3 linked regions of the Homo sapiens genome follow. The protein of the gene in region 3 interacts with the protein of the main gene of each other region in a biochemical or structural test. Each region holds a gene or a part of one and is shown on either strand. Other genes may lie near its edges.

Region 1 (7,287 bases), on a different chromosome or scaffold from region 3:
TTCCAGATGTGCAGGGCCTACCTGACCTTGCCCAGGGGTCCTCTGGGTTTGGATGATTGCTTCGAGCCTCAGGGTGTTTGTCCCCGGGGTGTTTGGGTAGAGATGGCGAAGTCGTTGAGAGTCATTTCTGGTTTTCCATTATGTTTGCAAGGAACTCAGCCTTGATGATCTCTGGAGTTCAGGGAAGTTCTCTTTTCCTTTCATATTCCCATTTTGGGTAACTGCGGAACGCCTGAGGTCAGAGGCTTGTCTGGGAAAAGGTGCAGGCCTCTTTTGGCTCAGCGCTGGACAGTGATCTTACCCCACATGGGCTCTATTTTACAGCCTTTTCTTAAAGCCAAAGATTTGACACTGTAACCACAGAACCTTAGAGCCCAGAGGACCTTTGGAGTCCTTACCTACAGGCCAGCTTAGGATGAAACCTTCCCATTTCAGTGAATACTTATCTTGTTCATAAAGATTTTCAGAAAAAGGGATTTGTGATCCAGGTCTCTCATTTATCTTACAGATCTGGTGCCCCTTCCTGAGACCCGAGCCACTCCTGTAGCTATGTAAATTAATTCCTCATGTTCCTGTCCTCAGTGAGGATGGACAACAGTTGGCAGCTGTCCTTCGCAAAATCGATCTCCATTTAGTTGAGACTCTTTCTAAGTCAGTCTCCAGTCTTTTCCTTTTTTTTCAGATGAAACGGGTTGATGAATTTAGATTTTCTTTCCAGAGCTTATTTGCTATTTATCATATGCTTCATTATCTCATCTGAATTTTATAGTGAAAACACTTCAAAGACTCTAAGTGCAATGTGAATGTTAACAATTATACAGTCTTGTTTCTTTGGCTCCCATTCAGGCTATCTTAAGTTGTGACACCTTAAATTTTTGGTAGGACTTCTGCGTTATCTTGGTCCATTCACATTTTAAGAGGAAACTCACACCCCAAGATTCTAAGTCTAGAATCTAAAGTGACAATCCAGGGCTGGGTGCAGTGGCTCACACCTGTAATCTTAGCACTCTGGGAGGCCGAGGTGGGCGGATCACTTGAGGTCAGGAGTTCGAGACCAGCCTGGCCAACATGGTGAAACCCTGTCTCTACTAAAAATACAAAAATAGCTGGGCATGGTGGCATGCACCTGTAATCCCAGCTACTTGGGAGGCTGAGGCAGGAGAATCTCTTGAACCCCGGAGGCAGAGGTTGCAGTGAGCCAAGATGGGGCCACTGCACTCCAGCCTGGCCAACAGAGCGAGACTCTGTCTCAAAACAAACAAACAAACAAATAAACAAGCCGACAACCCGGAGATATGTGTTAGGTACCCACTTAGTAACAGGGATGCTTCATAGGTCCATGAAGATTCCTAGGAATCTCAGCAAGGGCTTTCTGCCCCTTGGAAGATTTCTATACAAGGGTATGGGGATCTGAACACGGGGCATCTTTCAGTGGGCATCCTTACAATAATAATGAGTTCTTTTGATACTGGCTTCTCCATCTGCTCTTCCCCTTTCTGCACCTGGACATCAGAATTAAGCTGCACTTGTCCCCCACACCTCCCTCGCAGACTGCACTGCCCCTCCTCCTGGGCAGTGATGGGGCGTGTGGAGGAGGCAGCCTCCAAGGGCTCTGCTCTCTTCAGACAGGAGATTGTCACTTTCCTTCCCTTCTTCAGGCGTGGACAATGAGGATGACCATGGCCGTGGAGATCTGGGGCGCCTCAAGAAGCAGAAGGATCACCACAACCCTCATCTAATCCTCATGATGATTCCCCCACACCGGCTCGACAACCCGGGCCAGGGGGGTCAGAGGAAGAAGCGGGCTTTGGACACCAATTACTGCTTCCGGTGAGACTGGGCCCACATGGGAACCAACATCTACTGCCTGCCTACTGCCCAATGGCTAGGTCAGGCCCCAGAGCCAAGCCACACTCAACAGAGGGTCCCTGATGCTATTCACAAACATCTCCAGGAAGAAGACTGAAAATCTCTCACAGAGATTTTCTCTGTGAAATCTCTTTCTGTTTTCCTGGGAGTCCCACTGTTTTTCCATAGGCTAACTCTGGAAGGAGCTGGCTGAAGTAAATGAGGAAAACTCTGTGAGGAGGAGTGTTGCTAAAATAGTTTGGATTGGAGAGGCTTGGTCAAAGCCTCTCCATGATTTCCATGTTTTAAGCACTTGTAGAGTGTATGTGTGAGATTAATGTAGGAGTTTCCATTAAAGAAGTGCTCAGTTAGTTCCCTATGAAGGGTCCAAGGATGCTACTGGATGGAGGCAAATAGAATGGTCTCCATTTGAACGGAAAGTTGGAGCTAGAGAAATTAACAAATGAATTCAGAAATTACTGGGTAGCCACAATAGAGAGATAGAAAAGACCCAGCTTCTCTTACTCAGGAGCAGTTTCACTGCTCATTTATAAAGGGAGGATAAAGTATGCATGCCAACTACTAAAAGGGAGAAGATGATCACGCCCATGAGAGGGTCCGAAGGATTAAGTGCTTTAACTGGGAGCAATGAGTTCACCTATGGACACAGGAAAGGCTTCAGAAGGGTGTGGAATTTGAGCAGAGGCTTCAAGGATGAGGTTTGGGGATGAAGGGATCCAGGAGGGGAAGCACTGCAGGTAAAGGAAGGAGCATGAGTGAGTGAGTCCATCTGGCCTCAGAGGATGCCGAAATGAAGCTGGGGAGAACGAATTGGGAAATATTTAGATCTGGAAACCATGTCTTATGAGGATGGTTGGGCTTGGGAAACTAGGGATGTTCAGTTGGGGGAACAGCTCAACAGCAAGGTATAGGAGAGGCAAGGTAGTTGCCACAAAGGCTGGCATGTAGATTTATTTATTCCATCAGTTAGGAACAAATCAGTTAGGAACGAATCAGTTATCAGTTAGGAACGAATCAGTTAGGAACGAATGATCTTGGCCAGTGACTTTAATCATAGTGATTTCTTGTTCACAAGAGGCCTGTAGCAGCAGGGTTAGGGTGGGCTGGCTGCTTAATGATGCCACCGAAGACTCAGGCTTTCTCTCTTTCCAGTCTGCCATGCTTAGTATGTTGGCTTTTCATCCTTTTCCTTATGGTCACAAGTGATTGCTAGGGCTTCAGGCACCTTGTCCACATTTAAGACAAGAAGGAATGAGGGAAGGGGAAGAGCCAGAAGCTTTCTTCTTCCATCTGTCACTTTTATAAATAATCGAATATCTTTGCCAGAACTTGCCCTTACCCCCTGCATACTTCTCCTTGTCTGATGGGTCATTACTGGGTCACATGACCACCGCTACTCTCAAGGGAGGACAGGAAAAGGAGCATCTGGTGTTTTCGACTCTGTAATGGGATGTCACAAGGGAGAAGGGAGTTAGGAATGGTTATTGAATAGATAACCAATGGTGTCTGCCATGGTTCACCCTTGGAACCCACAAGAAGCCAGATTTTGGCTAATAGCTGCCTTTGGAAGTAGCAAGTTCTAAGTCTCAGCAGATATTAAAGCAGAGGCTAGCTGTCCACTTGGCAAGCGGTATTATTGCCAAATGATCTCTGTAGGCAACAGAATTGAAGGGGCCTGATAATCACATTTGGGTGATCTGTTGAACCACGGTTCTAATAGAAGGATATGCCTTATTTGGCTAAATGGCCTTTGGATTGAGTCTCAGCAGTCACCTACTATAGTAGTCAAGCTGCATAAACTTAGAATTGATTTCTGTCTGGGTGCACATTAGGAGGGTAAAAATAAAACCAACCTCAACAAAGCTGAGTTGGCTAATAACATTCAGTGCTTGGTTTTATGTGGAGCGCTTCATAGCACTGCTTTGTATTGTGATAGAAAAGGGTGCAGGGCCACCTTTGCCTCTTTACTCTTCCTCATGCAGCATTTATCTCTGTTTCTTACATCCTTGGGATCCTGGTCTTTAACACATGAATGTGCCTTTCTGGTTTCTTCTGCCCCATGCCCTTGAACCTGGGATTCCATTGATCAGAGCCACCTATGATGGCATGAAAGGACTCCAAGGGAGAATATGAGAGCATTCATGAAGTTTCTTTTATTGGTGGTTTTAAGTTGATTTTCTATAAATGTTTTTTGTTGTAGCAACTTGGAGGAGAACTGCTGTGTGCGCCCCCTCTACATTGACTTCCGACAGGATCTGGGCTGGAAGTGGGTCCATGAACCTAAGGGCTACTATGCCAACTTCTGCTCAGGCCCTTGCCCATACCTCCGCAGTGCAGACACAACCCACAGCACGGTATGGAGCAGGCTCATGCCATCTGAGGCACTGGGGCTGACCGACCAGACCACTTGTTAAAAAGAATGAGTGAAGGATTGAATGTTGAGTGAGCAAATGATGGTCTGGGGTGAGTAAAATTCCTCTGGTGAAGGTTCTGATCTTGGCACCCTGACTCAGTTCTACTCAGTCACATTCTGCCCTTTTAAATTCCTACCATAGTTTCAACCAGCTTTTTAATTTGCTTTGTCCAAAGCTCTCTGTACCGTAGAAATTAATTAACTGCCACGTGTTACCCTATGTCAGAGATATGTGCATGTGGCTGGCAAGGAACACTGAAGTAGAAAGGCTTCTATCAGAACTCTGATCATTCCAGCCTCTCGAATGTAGAAAACTTACTCTGAAAGACAACAACAAGGATGGACAAGAAGCTAATTTGAAATGCTAGGAACAGAAAGTGAGATAGCCGAGAGTCCACAACCCCTGAAACTAGTCTGTCTTTCCCTTGAGGGGAATCAAAAATAGGGCAGTAATTTGTGAAGCATGTTTCCTTCTAGCTCATTGTTTCTGCATCCTGTCTGGGGCCCTGCACGCTGCACTTACTAAATGGCTCAAGGCAATGTTTTGTGAGAACATTTCTCACCGAAGTGATCAGTTCCAGCTAGGAAGAGCAATGTAAGTGTTTTCTTAAAAGCCAAGATAGGCCGGGCACGGTGGCTCACGCCTGTAATCCCAGCACTCTGGGAGGCCAAGGCGGGTGGATCACAAGGTCAGGAGTTCGAGACCAGCCTGGCCAACATGGTGAAACCCTGTCTCTACCAAAAATGTAAAAAATTAGCCGGGTGTGGTGGCACGCGCTTGTAATCCCAGCTACTTGGGAGGCTGAGGCAGGAGAATCGCTTGAACCCAGGAGGCGGAAGTTGCAGTGAGCCAAGATTGCACCACTGCACTTCAGCCTGGGTGAAAGAGTGAGACTCTGACTCAAAAAAAAAAAAAAAAAAAAAAAAAAAAAGCCAAGATAATTCGTTATCAGTGTAGTAACTGTCATATGCTTCAACTCATCACCCCAAACAAGTGCAGTTGTTCTGCTTCTGTCATTGTGGATGAACAGCAACTACACAACTACTCACTCACCCAAACCAGGTTCCAACAGTTTTTTTTTTTTTCTTTTTTTTGAGACAGACTCACTCTGTGGCTCAGGCTGGAGTGCGGTGGCACTATTTCTGCTTACTGCAACCTCTGCTTCCTGGATTCAGGTGATCCTCCCACCTCAGCCTCCCAAGTAGCTGGGATTACAGGCGCCTGCCACCACAGCCAGCTAATTTTTTTGTATTTTTAGTAGAGATGGGGTTTCACCATGCTGGCCAGGCTGGTCTCAAACTCCTGACCTGAAGTGATCTGCCTGCCTCTGCCTCCCAAGTCCTGGGACTACAGCTGTGAGCCACTGCACCCGGCCCCCAACAGTTCCTCTTAAAGAGCACCCGTGGCCATTCTAGCACTTGCTCAGCTTCTGGGACTGCCCCTGGAACTGGGCGACTTCCTGGGTTCCAGGCCTGAGACTTGGCCTTCCAACCTCTCACTGACATGTCCCTTCCCAGGTGCTGGGACTGTACAACACTCTGAACCCTGAAGCATCTGCCTCGCCTTGCTGCGTGCCCCAGGACCTGGAGCCCCTGACCATCCTGTACTATGTTGGGAGGACCCCCAAAGTGGAGCAGCTCTCCAACATGGTGGTGAAGTCTTGTAAATGTAGCTGAGACCCCACGTGCGACAGAGAGAGGGGAGAGAGAACCACCACTGCCTGACTGCCCGCTCCTCGGGAAACACACAAGCAACAAACCTCACTGAGAGGCCTGGAGCCCACAACCTTCGGCTCCGGGCAAATGGCTGAGATGGAGGTTTCCTTTTGGAACATTTCTTTCTTGCTGGCTCTGAGAATCACGGTGGTAAAGAAAGTGTGGGTTTGGTTAGAGGAAGGCTGAACTCTTCAGAACACACAGACTTTCTGTGACGCAGACAGAGGGGATGGGGATAGAGGAAAGGGATGGTAAGTTGAGATGTTGTGTGGCAATGGGATTTGGGCTACCCTAAAGGGAGAAGGAAGGGCAGAGAATGGCTGGGTCAGGGCCAGACTGGAAGACACTTCAGATCTGAGGTTGGATTTGCTCATTGCTGTACCACATCTGCTCTAGGGAATCTGGATTATGTTATACAAGGCAAGCATTTTTTTTTTTTTTTTAAAGACAGGTTACGAAGACAAAGTCCCAGAATTGTATCTCATACTGTCTGGGATTAAGGGCAAATCTATTACTTTTGCAAACTGTCCTCTACATCAATTAACATCGTGGGTCACTACAGGGAGAAAATCCAGGTCATGCAGTTCCTGGCCCATCAACTGTATTGGGCCTTTTGGATATGCTGAACGCAGAAGAAAGGGTGGAAATCAACCCTCTCCTGTCTGCCCTCTGGGTCCCTCCTCTCACCTCTCCCTCGATCATATTTCCCCTTGGACACTTGGTTAGACGCCTTCCAGGTCAGGATGCACATTTCTGGATTGTGGTTCCATGCAGCCTTGGGGCATTATGGGTTCTTCCCCCACTTCCCCTCCAAGACCCTGTGTTCATTTGGTGTTCCTGGAAGCAGGTGCTACAACATGTGAGGCATTCGGGGAAGCTGCACATGTGCCACACAGTGACTTGGCCCCAGACGCATAGACTGAGGTATAAAGACAAGTATGAATATTACTCTCAAAATCTTTGTATAAATAAATATTTTTGGGGCATCCTGGATGATTTCATCTTCTGGAATATTGTTTCTAGAACAGTAAAAGCCTTATTCTAAGGTGTATGTCTGACTCGATAAATATCCTTCAATTACCCTTAATTCCATGTCCGCATCTACTAATCAGAGGTAACCAGAATCTGGGGCAGAGAATCTGTCAATCACCAAACACATTGCTTAGCGCAACTCCCCTTACACAGGGGGCACACCGTGCTGACTTCCGCCTGCTAAGAAGACTGCACTATTGCTTGTGCGTCTTTCCTTCTTGCAGAGTATATTATTCTCAGAGACACAGAGGCAGTGG
Region 2 (7,287 bases), on a different chromosome or scaffold from region 3:
CTCACTTTGGAATGGAGAAGTGAAGAAATCACAGACACTGTGTTACTACATGAAATACACATTTTTACAGCAGTGTAGATATGGATGTGGGTAATTTGTAAAGGAGTTGCAACTAAACTATTAAGCCTTATCATTCTTGTGAAGATTTGCTAAATAGTGCAGCACTAAGCAGATTCCCTTTAATAGTATGAAGAAGCAAGCCTTTATTCATTGCTCCTTTCTTTTTGCCCAATTTCTTCGATGGATCCTATCAAATTATTGCCGCTTTAGGGATTATATATATTCAATATATTATATAATAAAAGCTTTGTAAGTTGCTGAAGTGACCAAAACCCCCATTACAGCCAACAGACCTCCTTTGTCTTAAATTGGCCCAATAGGCTTATCCCATTTTGTTATAATTAACATCCTATTATATAATGATGTATAACAAAAGTTTCAATGTAGCAAATGGAGCTGAAGACTAATTACTGTGCTATTACACTGCCATTAGTAATGCTATTTGTAATTATATATCAAGAACTAGGGAATATGAATTGGTTTTCTATGTCTTACATCCACCTAGTACAAGACCCATAAAGACCAACTCTGAAATACTAGGCCAAGTCTCTGAATCTCATTGAAGTCCTTTAAGTCATTTCAGATATTTTAAAAGTCAGAAACATCTACTTGTGATAAAGCAAAGAATTATGGCTTCTATGGTTCATTAACAATGCATTCTTAATTAAACTTATTCTGATCAAAGTTTTCAGAGGCCTGCTGTTTTGTTTATACACCCAGATATTTGGAATTATCCAGATGTCTGACTTTCCACTGTTCATCAAAATGTTTCGGTATGGCATCTATAGCTTGTAAGCTGGGTCTTCTTAGCTATCATCTTTGGATTCTGCATTATTTGTGGAGTTTTATAGGTATCAAGCAGCCATTATGAAGGACCTAGGGTAGGTGACGGGGCAGACACAGGTAAATTGGGCTGATTGTATGCCCTGTTGCACCAGAATACGCATTTCCTATGATGTGCCGAGAGGCCACACCGAAATTCTAGGTAGAAATGAGCAAAACAAAGACCATCATATTGGCAAGAGTCTTGCCCTGGGCAAGCACTCCATTGGTTTCTACAGCAGCTCATACTTACTTGCACAATCTTCTTGTGAAATGTGGTTATTAATACTAATGTCATCCACAGCAATCCCACCAAGGTTTCCTTTTCCGATTTCGCCCTCGAAAATCACCTAACAAAATAAGATCATTTTCACAGTATTGAAATGCTCATCTCACATGGCAGTGTTTACAAATGCTTGTTCAGCTCCAGCTACGGCACATAAATTAAATTCATCAGATTCAGCGTAACACAGACTTCACTCATCAATCCACATTAGCTGCCTGGTGATGGTATGCACCTTCTCCTTACACTCTCTTCTTATAATACAAACTTTAAAACGGGAGAAAGCAGCAAACAAAAGGAATGATACATTGTGAAAGCCCAGAAATAGATGACACGGAAGCCCTTTGTGTTCCTTCTCAGCAAATTGGTTCTATTCCTGCAATCTAGGAGACTGTGAAATCTGCTATTAAGGTGGTTATCATTGCAGCAATATCTCAGGGTTGGGAAACACTGGAAATAATTTCGGAATAATTCCCATGTCTCATTTGCACAGCCTCCAACATATCATCTCAGCATTCCTGCAGCCACTGCCCTCCCCAGCCTTGGGAAGAGGTCATACCTGATAAAGTTTCAGAGACTTGTGGAGCAAGACACGCCCTTCCTTCCAGTGGTCACCTTGGTGTCCAATGGCCATCCAGACCAGCTGATCGTACTCCTCTGGCTTCTGGTAGCGCAGTTTGACCCTGAGTGTGCCGACGTGGGACCCAGACATGTGATACCAGAAGGTCATGCAGTGGGCAGAGTTCTGGGAATAAACCACAGGGCTCACCAGGCGAGCCACTTTGCCCTTCTGATTTTCGTCAGCTTGGGAATAGATGAAGTTGCCATCTCCTGCTGTGACAAAGAACTGTGTTAGGGAGAGTGGCCAGGATTACCACACTTTTATCTCTCTTCTTTCAAGTCTCACTAATCAAAAGCTTCCTGCGCTGAGCACCAAGAACCCAAATACGTAGTGGAAAGGGATAAGTGTGCACACTTGGGGACCTCATGGGCACCTAAGGCCCTGCTCTCAGCTCTTGCAAAATGGACATTTGATTAGGGGAAGGCTGAGTGGCACTAATTAGGATACTACTTATAATGGAATGCATTTTCATATGGACACATGCTATGCCTCAAGCTGGCATTTGCACCATCACAAGCAAACTGAAAGCAAAGTCTGTGCATAGACTGGACTGAAAACTCCTGGCTCTTAGAGAAACCTTATTTATTTATTTATTTATTATGTTAGACACTCCTGTTGCCCAGGTTGGGATGCAGTGGTGTGATCATAGCTCATTGCAGCCTCAAACTCCTTGGTTCAAGTGATCATCCTGCCTCAGCATTCTGAGTAGCTATGACTACGGGCCCATGCCACCATGCTCAGCTAGTTCTTAAAAAGATTAATTTTTTTTTTTAAGTAGAGATAGAATCTTGCTATGTTGCCCAGGCTAGTCTCAAACTCCTGGCCTCAAGCAATCCTCCCACCTTGGCCTCCCAAAATGCTGGGATTACAGGCATGATCCACCACGCTGGGCCCAAGAAACCCTGTTTTTATGCAACTTTAAGATCACACTGCGGCACCCATGTGAACACATGCATTAAATGAAATCATTGAGATGTATTTTTATTTATCATTTGAGCAGCAGGACTTCTGATTAATGAAATTTCTGTCACTATGACTGCTTGATAATCATAAACCTGTAGTTTTTCCTAATAATGTAGTAATCTTTTTTTTTATACTTTTCAAGTTCAGATTATTTTTCCCGTAGTTTGTTTTCATGGTTTTCGAATTCCTTAAACACACCTGAGAGCTTGAATCTCTACTGTGAGCCCTGCTTCTATTTGATGTGGGCTTCTGGCTCAAGGAGAGGCAAGGTTGCCTTGTTGAGGTTCATTAGAACGTGCCATTTTGGCAACTTAGACACTTGCTGAACTGCGAGGACTTTCTCTTGGCTTCGCTTTTAATGACCCCCACTGGGAACATTTCCTCCTGCCACCACCTGGTCAACACAGCTCATGTTTCACTGTTGGCTCTGCAAATAGAAATCATCTTCTCTAACACCTCACCTGATTAAGTGTGAATCTGCTGCTCGGGCCTCAGTGGGCAGCAAGAGGTTGTGTTTGTTGCCCAAGAGACTTGTGTGTTTGCAAGGTGCTTTCTCACTGTGCACACGTGGGCACATACTCCTTTCCGCTTGCCTGTGTCAACAGTGTCCAGGTGGATGTGGACGTGTTCATGGGCAGCTTCCTTTCCTTACCTGGTTGCTTATGTGAGAGCCCGCCCTTCTTCAAACCAACGGGTGGAATCATAAAGGAAGGGTGTTCACAAATGGCAGCTCTAGCAGTAGGTTTGATACTGCAGGATGAATGTCCCTCTCGCTCTCTGACCTTGCAGGTGTCCTCTGTGACTGAGCTGATCCATTCACACTTAGGATTTGTTTTGCCCACTAATTTATCAAGATGTGATTACTTGTCTGTGGGATGGTGCCATTTCACTGTGATGAATCCACCACGATGGGAAAAAAATACACCCATCGTGCCTCTGTCCCCTCAATCTTACGGAAAAAAGACTGAAATTGGCAATGCTGCTGCCATGTCTTAATCCCACTTATTGAGCTCATTGCTCAAAGTTTATTGAGGCTAGTCAGAGAATGGGTGTTAGAAAGAAGGAGAGAAGTGGACGTAGGTAGAGGGATGCTCTCCCATAGGACATCCTCACTCAACTGCACCATAATCACTTCCCATCCACAACTAGACAGTAAGTTCCTCAAGCACAGAGACCCCCTCCTTCATACCTGTATTTCCAGTGCCCAACACAGCACCTGCCATGTAACAGGGCTTCTCAAATGATGCCTGTTCAGTGCAGTAGGAGAGATGCCAGATTTCAAGAATCCTCTGCCTGAGGAAGTTCTTATGGTCCCTGCCTTCTCACACTGTGGTCTTTAAATATGCTCGTGTGGCCGGGCGCGGTGGTCCACGCCTGTAATCCCAGCACTTTGGGAAGCCGAGGTGGCTGAATCACCTGAGGTCAGGAGTCCGAGACCAGCCTGGCCAACATGACAAAACCATGTCTCTACCAAAAATACAAAAATTAGCCGGGCGTGGTGGCGGGCATCTGTAGTAGCTCCTACATAGCTGTAGTCCTAAGTAGCTGGGACTACAGCTACTTAGGAGGCTGAGACAGGAGAATCGCTTGAACCTGGGAGGTGGAGGATGCAGTGAGCCAAGATCACACCACTGCACTCCAACCTAGGCAACAGAGACCCTGTCTTAAATATATATATATATATATATATATATAAATTAAAACTGCTCGTGTTGCTCCTCTGCTTAGAATTCTTCAGAGGCTGCTCACTGCCTGCAGCCTATCCACACTTCTTCACAAAGAGGGAGCGCTGGCAGCCCCTCCAATGGACCTTTTATCCACCCCCATCCTGTTTTCCTCCTGGTCACTGCATCACCAACTTAAGGTATAGTATAAAGAACCAGCAGTGTCCTGCCAAACACACACACACACACACTCACTCACAATAAACACCCGATCCACAAACTTCTGCTCTACTCAGTGAAAATGGAAGGAATCCAATTTCATCAATTTCCTTGTCAATCTCATTAGGCAAGGAGGTAGTTCCCAAAGTCATGCACACTCTGCCTCTATCTAACTGCTTCCCATACAAAAACCTGTGCAAAGCACACCAAACATGAGCCAGTAAAATAAGCCTAGCTCAGCCGGTGTCTGAGACAGGGCTGCTTTCCTTGACCCCTCTTCCGTCATCTTTTACATGGTCCATTGTCACTGGCCTCTGCCATTGGAAGCCCTCACTGAACTGCACTGTGGTTGCTTCCCAACCATGATCAGACTGCGAGTTCCTCAAGCGTAGGGACCTCTTCCTTTACACGTGTATTTCCAGTGCCCAAGTCAGCATCTGCCCTGTAACAGAGCTTCTCAAATACCACTTGTTCACTGAACCAGGGAGAGATGCCAGACTTCAGGAATCCTCTGAAAGGAGGTACCTAGTTCCATTCTTTGAGGTCAAATGCAGAAAACCAAGCAAATGGGATGCCTTTCGATAAGCAGCAGGATATTTTACCTAGCTAGTGTTCATTTTCTTTTTAAACAACCCAATGTCTGGCTTGCAAAGTTTCACCAAATAATATTATAAAAAAAGCACCATCTACTCTCTAATGTCAGTCTATGCGCGGGAGCTTCGTGAAGGGCTCTTTTCATCTGGATCTTTTTCCCGTTAACAAGTAGTTCCTGCCTTTCAGATGTCGGGCTCACCCATCTCTCTACACAAATGATTGTGTTTCTAGAACTGCAGGGGCTCTTTCTAGTCGGAGCTGACCTGGCACAACTGCCAAGTAAATCTGGGTGGCTGAGAGAACAAAAGAGTCAAACCCTTCTGAAGGAATCGCACTTCTCAGCTGTTAATCTACGACAAGCTCTCCTTCTCTGATACTCTAACACATAAAGCACTGATATTTTCCCTTTCAAGGGTTTTATCACAGTTCTGGGTCAGGAACTCTGTCTTCATTTTCTCAATTAGCACTTTACTTCTGCAAGCCTTTTAGCTTTTGTCTCTGGCTAACATAGCTTTTAACCTCCTTTGAATGTCAGATCCTACTGAGCCATTTTGCTTCACTTTGCATCAATTTTTCCACCATTACTGCCTTCATTTTGGCTAATTGCATTTAGTTAATTTGATGCCATTTATATGTACAGTGCCATTTACAGTCAAAGTATTTTAAGTTTTCTAAAACTGCCTGTCTTAAGATTCAATTGAAAGTGTCTCAGATTTGAAGGAGTCCAATTTTATCCAATTTCCTTGTCATTCTCATTAGGCAAGGAGGTGGCTGTGGTGGAAGGAGGCCTATTCAACCTATTTAATGGTTATATTCACTGGGAGAAAAGTGAACCACAAAATGGGAAAGGCATGAAGTACCCTTGGCCCAGCCTTCAGTCCACTGACTCACTCACCCAAAGAGCCAAGATGGGGAGAATTTAATGAGATTTCCTAGCATCAGCAAATGCCCCCCTGGGGTACCTTTTGGGAAGCCACTACTTGAGCAAGCAGTGCTCTGTAAGTATTTCTGAGTGGGTGCAGAAGTTCATGGATTGGGCGTTTGTTGTGAGTGTGTATATGTGTGTGTGTGTATGTGTGTGTGTGTGCATGTGTGTTGGGCCAGACATGGCTGGTTATTTCTTTATTTTTAATTTTTATTTTTTTCTCTTTAGAGACAGGTTCTAATTCTGTCACCCAGGCTGGAGTGCAATGGTGTGATCATAGGTCACTGCAGCCTTGAACTCCTAGGCTCAAAGGATCCTAAAACAGACTCTGAGTAGCTGGGACTACAAGTGTGCGCCCTTATGCCTGGCTGATTTTAAAAAAAAAATTTATTTTGTAGTGTCAGTATCTTGCTATGTTGCCCAGGCTGGTCTCTAACTCTCTAACTCAACTGATTCTCCTGTTCTGGCCTCCCAAAGTGCTGGGATTACAGGTGTGAGCCACCACGTCCAGTCTGCTGGTCCTTTATACTGTACTTCAAGTTGGGCAGTGAAATGACTAGGTGGGTAGCAGGAAGGGGGCAGATAATAGAGTTCACTGGAGAAGCTGCCAGCTTTTTCTGTCCCCCAACCCATTCCTCCCCCACCAATTAATCTTAGGAAGAAAGTAAGGCAGGAGGTGGTGGGAGGGTTGTGATCTAGGGCATGGTGAGGTTTCTACCTGCTCAAAGGAAATACACTACACTTTCAATCTTTCCCCAGTGAATAAGAATTCCACACCGTCTTTCCCCACCTCCCCTTCAAGGGTCGGGAGAGAGCAAGCATTGTGAATTGTTTCTTTAGTTGTAAAATAAACGAGGGGACATAATATATGCTTGGACTTGTTTGAAAATAATTCAGAGTCAGGGATGACAGACATAAATTAAGTTTCCTATGATCTGATAATTGTTGAAGCAGGGTCGTGCACATAGAGAATTCATTCTACTATTTCTTTTCCATTTGTGAATATGTTTGAAATTGCCCAAAATAAGAAGTTCAGAAAAAGTATAAGATGAGGCTAGTTGCGGTGCCTCACACCTATAATCCCAGCACTTTGGGAAGCTGAGGTGGGTGGATCACAAGGTCAGGAGTTCGAGAC
Region 3 (8,023 bases):
TCTTTTTATGAGTAGAAGGTGTCTTTCACCTGTAGCACAAAGTGGAGGTTCAGAGCATGAACGGATTCTGTAGCCAGGCCACCTGACTCTGCCACTTGCTGGTTGTGTGACCTTGGGCAAGTTACATAACCTCTCTGTGCATCATTTCCTAATCTGTAAAATGAGGATAATAGCTGGGCACAGTAGCTCATGCCTGTAATCCCAGCACCTTGGGAGGCTGAGGCAGGTGGATCACGAGGTCAGGAGTTTGAGACCAGCCTGGCCAATATGGTGAAACCTTGTCTCTACTAAAAATACAAAAATTAGCAGGGCGTGGTGGCGTGTGCCTTTAGTCCCAGCTACTCGGGAAGCTGAGGCAGAAGAATCACTTGAACCCAGGAGGTGGAGGTTGCAGTGAGCCAAGATGGCGCCACTGCACTCCGGCCTGGGCAACAAGACGGAAACTGTGTCTCAAAAAAAAAAAAAAAAAAAAAAAAAAAGATTATAGAGAAACAACCAAATGATTTTTCTAATGATAAAGTCTTTTAGACTTTATCTGATTAAAGAAAGTCTGATTAGCAGACTGTGAACTGCTAATCAACAGAATCTGGAGACATGCCACTAAATCTGAGTCACTGTCAACATGTGAGTCCACACCTACAGGAGGGGTGGTTCCTTGTATGAAAAACAGCCTCAGTAAATCACTGAAACTCTGCTGGCAAACATTTTTAATGCAAGTAATGCACCTCAATTTCACCCCCCTGCTTACAATCCTGTTTGAAACAATTCCAAACAAATGACCAAGAAACCACTTTGGACCAAAAGAAAGCTGGTATCTTACAGTAACAAATACTGTAGCTTGAATGCAGTTCTCCATGAGAAATTAGTGAAAGGGAGCATCCATTCCCTTAGAAATCAGTTAATATTGCCATTAATAAGAGGTTGGGCAACTGGGCACGGCAGCTCACGCCTGTAATCCCAACACTGTGGGAGGCCAAGGTGGGTGGATCACTTGAGGTCAGGAGTTATGGCAAAACCCTGTCTCTACTGAAAATACAAATATCAACCAGGCATGGTGGTGGGTGCTGGTAATCCCAGCTACTTGAGAGGCTGAGGCATGAGAATCACTTGAACCTGGGAGGTGGGGGTGGGGGTTGCAGTGAGCTGAGATCGCGCTGCTGCACTCTAGTCTGGGCAACAAGAGGGAAACTCCGTCTCAAAAAAGAAAGAAAGAAAGAAAAGAGGTAGGGGAACCCTTTTTTATAGAGCTTTGCTCAGGAACCAAAAATTCAAGTTTATTTTAAACCTTTCGTCTATGCTTGAGGTATCTGGATTTCTGCTTTTAATATCATATTGTAAAGATTTAAAGAGAAAACATCTCTGTAGACATTGTTAATTTTGTAAATACTGATGTAATTTCTTGTGTTTTTCCATATCATCTACTGAAACTAAATAGCTCAGAATTAAAAAAAAGAGCCCTTTTATTTTGCCAGTCTATAAAGCTTCTGATGACAGGTAGAAGAACCTGGTGGTTAAGGACTTAGGTTTTGAGGTCGGTGGATGTGAGATTGAATCGTGGACAGGTTTTGAGGTCGGTGGATGTGAGATTGAATCGTGGACAAGATCTCAGTTTGTATAAAGGCATGTATATCGGCCTCATTTATACATATTCTTAGAGGGCTGTGAGAAGTAAATGTGTTTATATGTATAGAATTTAGTACCCATGGCCAGGCGCAGTGGCTCATGCCTGTAATCTCAGCAGTTTGGGAGGCCAAGGCGGGTGGATCACTTGAGGTCAGGAGTTCGAGAGCAGCCTGGCCAACATGGTATGAAACCCCGTCTCTACTAAAAATACAAAAATTAGCCAGGCATGGTGGTGCGTGCTTGTCAATCCCAGCTACTCAGGAGGCTGAGGCAGGAGAATTGCTTGAGCCCAGGAGGCAGAGGTTGCAGTGAGCTGAGATTGCGCCACTGCACTCCAGCCTCGGCAGCAGAGCGAGACTCTGTCTCAAAACAAAAACAAACAAACAAAAAAGAATTCAGTACCCACGCTGGCTCAGATGTTGATGGTTACTGTTGTGAATCTGGCTCTACGGGGACCAGTCACTTCATCACTCTTTAAAGACAAGACACTCCTAAATTATCTACCAGGCCATTTTATTTAGAAGGCCTTAACATGATTGATACATTTAATTTAATTTTATTTTTTTGAGACAGAGTGTTGCTCTTGTCCAGGCTAGAGTGCAATGGCACCATCTCAGCTCACTGCAACCTCTGCCTCCTGGGTTCAAACGATTCTCTTGCCTCAGCCTCCCAAGTAGCTGGGATTACAGGTGCCCGCCACCATGCCTGGCTAATTTTTGTATTTTAGTTGAGATGGGGTTTCACCATGTTGGTCAGGCTGGTCTAGAACTCCTGACCTCAAGTGATCCACCCACCTCGGCTTCCCAAATTGCTGAGATTATAGGCATGAGCCACCTCACCTGGCCGATGCATTTAAATGTGGGATTAAATATTCACACCTAGTTCAAGTGTTCACATCTGTACTTGAAACTAAAACTTGTTAACAAGGCATAAATACTGTATTAGTCTGTTTTCATGCTGCTGATAAAGACATACCCGAGACTGGGCAATTTACAAAGGAAAGGTTTATTGGACTTACAGTTCCACATGGCTGGGGAGACCTCACAATCATGGCAGAAGGTAAGGAGGAGCAAGTCACATATCACGTGGATGGCAGCAGGCAGAGAGAGCTGGTACACGGAGACTCCTGTTTTTAAAGCCATCAGATCTCGTGAGACTTATTCACTATCATGAGAACAGCACAGGAAAAACTCATCCCCAAGATTCAATTACCTCCCATTGGGTTCCTCCTAGGACACATGGGGATTGTGGGACTTACAATTCGAGATGAGATTTGGGTGGGGACACAGCCAAACCATATCAAATACTGTTTAATTTGAGTCTAGGAGAAATCTTAAGGCCTTAAACTTAGACTTTATAAAAGCAGAGGCTAGCTCCATCTGGACTGTTTATTCCTTCAGAATATTATGCCTACTTGTATTCCCAATGCCTGACTCAGGGCTCTCCCATAGTCAGTGCTCAATGAATATTGGTAAGGAAAAAAATGGTTCAGTGAGGAGATTTTTGCAGTAATTCAGGTGACTGATGACATTTGACCTTTGTGAATGAATCTCCAATTCTGCAATTGGGTGGATTCTCTGCCTATAGGTACAAGAGGAAGAGGACGAGAAATATTTCCTGTTCTCTCAATAACTTTCCAAATAACATGTCATAAGAAGCCTCCTCATTCTACTCTCCAACATATTAAAAGCCTAGGATTGAGCCAGGTGCAGCGGCTAACGCCTCTAATCCCAGCACTTTGGGAGGCCAAGGCAGGCGAATCTCTTGAGCTCAGGAGTTTGAGACCAGCCTGGGCAACTAAGTGAGACCCCCGCCCTGCCAACCCCCTCTACAAAAAATACAAAAAGTTAGCTGGGCGTGGTGGCATTTGTCAGTAATCCCAGCTACTCAGGAGGCTGAGGTGGGAGAATCGCTTGAGCCTGAGAAGCGGAGGTTGTAGCGAGCTGAGATTGAGATTGTGCCACTGCACTCCAGCCTGGGCGACAGGGCGAGACTCCATCTCAAAAAAAAAAAAAAAAAAAAAAAAAAAGGCATAGGTCCATAGCCCTTTAGAACTGGAAGAAGCCTTCTAGGCCAAGCCCTTCATTTGAACTGAGCCTTGACGGGTATTAGCCGTTAGCCATTTGTGGAAGGTCGCACAGTAGTCAGGACTGGAAGTCTGGTCTTTGAAACCTGTCAGTCCACGGTCATTTCACCTGCCTGTTTGTAAAACAATGTCCTGTTACTTAAGTATACTTTTTAATAAGAAAAACTGGGTGTAAGCAAGAGTATCAGAGTGGTGTTCTGGTGCCAGCAGTTCAACTTCTGCAGCGTGTACTTCACAGGCACAGGTACTTAGGACGTCGCACAGGCACAGGTACTTAGGACGTTGCCCCGCCGAGACTGTCGTTCATATCGCGCCCACCTCCGGGTAACGCCGGTAATGCTGACCTAGCTCCATTATTTGTATTAATTTATTTAGCTAGCAGGGGGAACGGCTGGGTAATGCAGTCTCAGCTGCTGGAGGGGAAGAGGCAAGACTCCGCCGGCGCCCACCATCAGAGCGTGACAACAAGCGGGACCGGAGGTTGGGAAAAAGCACAGGGACAGAATGAATGTGTGCATGGGGGAGCTCTGCTGGGGAGAGGGCAAGAGGCTGTGATCAGATTATCTGAGGTTTCAGAACTTTTATATAAAGACCAAGGAACCAAATGAAAATCCAACTCTTCCAGGGAGCCCTGGAAAGTTCAAAGGACCTCGTTTGAGGGAGCGAGTCCCCGCAGCTCGTGCCCACGTCTCCCTCGCGCTTCCCCCAGGACAGGGGCCGCCCCAACCCGGGCACGCTGAGCCCGGCCGCGCCCCTAGCCCCTTCTCTCTCGGCCTCCTCGTCCCGAAGGGAAGCACAGGCTCGAGCAGCATTCGGGGCTCATCCATCAGCCGCGGAGGCAAAGGGGGAGGAGAGAGGAGGCGGGAGGCGGGAGGCGGGAGGAGGAGTTTCTGGGCGGCCGAGAGCCCCCGGTGGGGCCGGCGGAGGAGCGCCCTTCCCCCCGCGCGCTGATTGCTGTGGCGTCCTGCCCGTCCCCGCCCGCGTGTGTGCGAGGGAGGGCGAGTGCGCCGGGTCGGCCTGATGGGGGTAATCGAGGGTTTCGGGGACGCCGAGCGGCACTTTCCTCTTCCCAGCGAGTGAAGGAGGGCAGTCGGCGGCTCTCGCGCCCCGGCCACTTTCCCTGCGCGATTCCCGGAGCTCCCTGCAGGAGGTGAGAGTCCCCAGCGGGTCCGGATGGCGTAGTTTTGCCGCGGCGCAGCAGCTGCCGGAGCTCGCCGCCGCCGAGCGCTGGGCGGGGAAACTTGCCGCCGCTTTCCTCCAACTTGCTGCGGGTGGATCTCCGCTGGACACACCGCCTCCGAGGTACGTGCCGGCCCAGCCCCGCGGCGCTGCAGCCCGCCCGGGCTGTGGGCTCTGCAGGCTGCGCGGGTGCCCGTCGGCGCGGCGCGGGCTGCCAGTGCCTACTTACCGGCCAGGGTCGCTCCAGCCGCCAGGACCTCCGGCCTTGGGAGGGAGGCGCTGGTGGGGCGGTGTTTACCCTCCGGGGAGCAGGCACCGGTGGCCAGCGGTGCGTGGGCAGCGGCCGCACGGGGCAGGCAGTGCCCCCGGCGATGCGCAGTGCTGGGGAGGAATTCTCCACGCCCGCCCTCACTCTTCCTCTCCGCGGGTCCTTCTGACCCCTGCGGGGCGCGGCGGCCACTTCCCTCCGGGCGCGTGACAGCTTCGGTGGGAATGGTTTGTTGTGGGTTCGCAGTCAATTGCCGTGGCCCAGGCTGTGGCTCCCGGACTCGTGCACGGACGCGGTTTGCGTTCCCCGCTGGCCGCGCCCTCAGGGTGCCTTGCGGGCTGAGCCGCAAGCTGCAGCTCGGCCCCCCCCCGCCCCGGTTTATTTTGAAGGCTCTCTTCTTGTATTCATTTGGTTAGGACAAACTTGGAAATCTTGGACTGTCGCTAGAAGAATCTGCTTGCAGACTTGATCTTATTAGGGCATTTGCCCCGCTTTGCAGAATCGCATAGTGTCAGGAGCCGACGTGTCAAGCATGAATTACCTTGGCAAAGTAGAACTTAGTGGATTTGGTGTCCTCACGAAAAGCTGGAAGAAGAAAACCGTTCCATTTCCCTAGCTGTGAAGTGAGGATAGTAGTACTTGCCCCGTAAAGTTGCTGTGAGCATCTAATGATTTAATGTGTGTGAGGTGCTACAACAGTGCTTGGCACCGAGTAAGCACCGCACGGAGGTTAGCGCTGCTTGCCGCTAGCCCTGCGGTGGCAGGATAGGAGCGGCGAGGGCAGAGGATAGTAGGAGTGACAGGCTGTGCTGGGGAACCAGGCGTATTCTGAGTTTTATGTCCTTCCGAAGAAGTGAGCGGTTTGGGAGAAGTCTCCACAGGTAGTAAAAACACACGTCAAGACCGTTTCTTCTTCCTGAATGCAGAGTGCAAACAGTTACTTCAGTGTGAACTCAGTTGTTTCTTTTGGATAATAATAACAGCTAACGTTTTCTAAGCCCATACTGTGTGCACTTAATCCTCACAGCATCTCTATGGGAAAAGCACTATTAATAACCCTATTTTACAGATAAGACACTAGAGGTTAAGTTACTTGTCCAAGATCATACATAACTTTCTGTTAGTTCTGACTCCAAAGCTACCTTCCTTCCTCAGCGGAGAGCGGCAAGTGCAGGCCGATTTGTGTGTACATAGATTTGTGTGCATAGTCCATGCATCTTCTCCCATCTTTCAGCTTTCTATTTGAGCTGAACGCATATCTCTTGAAACACACATAAGGTATCTGTGATGAATTTAGGCGATTTTACATACTTATGAGGGTGCCCAATTAAAGTTCCTCTGAAACTGGCCCCAAATAATTATAAATAGAACTCTGACTTGTATTAATTAACATGGAAATTTTTTTTTTTTTTTGGTGACAGAGTCTCGCTCTGTCCCCAGGCTGCAGTGCAGTGGTGCGATCTCGGCTCACTGCAACCTCCACCTCCCGGGTTCAAGAGTTTCTCCTGACTCAGCCTCCAGAGTAGCTGGGACTACAGGCGCGCGCTACCACGCCCAGCTAACTTTTGTATTTTTAGTAGAGACGGCGTTTCACCATGTTGGCCAGGATGGTCTCGATTTCTTGACCTCGTGATCCACCTGCCTCGGCCTCCCAAAGTGCTGGGATTACAGGTGTGAGCCACCACGCCTGGCCAACATGGATCTTTATTCTTAATTTCTTTTATTAATTCTCCAGACATTGTTGATCACCATTACTTGGCTTCCTTAGGAAACAGCTTGGGGTTGGCACAGGAGGCAGGGAAATAATTCTTACCCCCTTAAGGGCTATTAACATGAAATTGATTTCATGCCATTGTGTCAGTTAAAGGATGTTGCTCTATTTCTTGCTGTTCTTTGCTTTTGGCTTTATTTCTGCATTGTTTAGTGTTTCAAGGCTTGAGCGTTTTTTTTTTTTGGCCCTTCAGTTTGACATTTGTCAACTTTAATTTTTCCTGTTTTGATGGAATCTGACCGTTACACGGCAGCTTTGCCTAACAACTGTTGATTCAGCTCATGTTTTTAAATATAAAAATCACCAACATAGTTTTGAATCCCAGCACTTCAAAGGCAACCCGTGGGGAGTTCATTGTTATTTTGAATATTAGTCAATAGGGGGAGCATAACACACTGTTGATATCTATAAGGCGCATAAACCCGTTTTTAGAGTATTAAACATATAGTTTGAAAGGGGAGGGCAAAATATCTAGCAAAATAACTAAGTTGCTTTTGGAGTTTATAATGGAGGACTAGATTTAATTTGAACTGATTAAGAATGACCTTGAGGACAGGGCCTGTATGTTGAATATATGTCAAGAACTCCATGGTGGCTGGACAGATAGATAAACACACATATAGTTTTTTTTCAATTTGTTTCCTTAAGTGGTGTGTAGGCCAGGCACAGTGGCTCACACCTGTAATTCCAACACTTTGGGAGGCTGAGGTAGGAGGATCACTTGGCCAAGGAGTTCGAGACCAGCCTGGGTAACATAGTGAGACCCCCATCTCTTTAAAAAGTGAAGTTTGTATGTAAACTAATTTTGTGTGGTTTGAATAATATTTCAACTTACCTGGGAGAAATGGAAATCCAGAGGAATTTGTTGTGAATCCTTTTGTAATGATCCTCATTTGTGTTTTGTAGAAAACTGAATATAATGAATTTGTTCTCAGGGAGGTTGGTGTGTTCACAATCCTGTCATCATCTTTCATTAACATCTTCTAAGTGCAAGACAATAGGGGATCAGTAATCCTAAATAACAGCAGTTCTATTACTGTGAATTCCTCAGAGGCTTACGTTAATATTCAAGTATAGTAGTAGTTCAGATGTATCA

Evidence for each region.
Region 1: the proteins of TGFBR3 (region 3) and TGFB3 interact in a biophysical measurement, tested with the Homo sapiens proteins (one study listed by IntAct).
Region 2: the proteins of TGFBR3 (region 3) and NRP1 form a complex in vitro, tested with the Homo sapiens proteins (one study listed by BioGRID).

The regions. Positions count from the first base shown.
Region 1 is NC_000014.9:75,957,859-75,965,145, reverse strand, and holds the end of TGFB3 (transforming growth factor beta-3 proprotein isoform 1 preproprotein), read left to right. Parts: intron 1-1,658; coding exon 1,659-1,830; coding exon of another isoform or gene 1,831-1,834; exon of another isoform or gene 1,835-2,085; intron 2,086-4,069; coding exon 4,070-4,223; intron 4,224-5,800; coding exon 5,801-5,959; 3' UTR 5,960-7,049; downstream 7,050-7,287. UniProt on the Homo sapiens protein: Transforming growth factor beta-3 proprotein: Precursor of the Latency-associated peptide (LAP) and Transforming growth factor beta-3 (TGF-beta-3) chains, which constitute the regulatory and active subunit of TGF-beta-3, respectively.
Region 2 is NC_000010.11:33,184,493-33,191,779, forward strand, and holds part of NRP1 (neuropilin-1 isoform a precursor), read right to left. Parts: intron 2,000-7,287; coding exon of another isoform or gene 1,997-1,999; coding exon 1,725-1,996; intron 1,233-1,724; coding exon 1,136-1,232; intron 1-1,135. UniProt on the Homo sapiens protein: Cell-surface receptor involved in the development of the cardiovascular system, in angiogenesis, in the formation of certain neuronal circuits and in organogenesis outside the nervous system. Mediates the chemorepulsant activity of semaphorins.
Region 3 is NC_000001.11:91,882,866-91,890,888, reverse strand, and holds the start of TGFBR3 (transforming growth factor beta receptor type 3 isoform a precursor), read left to right. Parts: upstream 1-4,737; 5' UTR 4,738-5,011; intron 5,012-8,023. UniProt on the Homo sapiens protein: Cell surface receptor that regulates diverse cellular processes including cell proliferation, differentiation, migration, and apoptosis.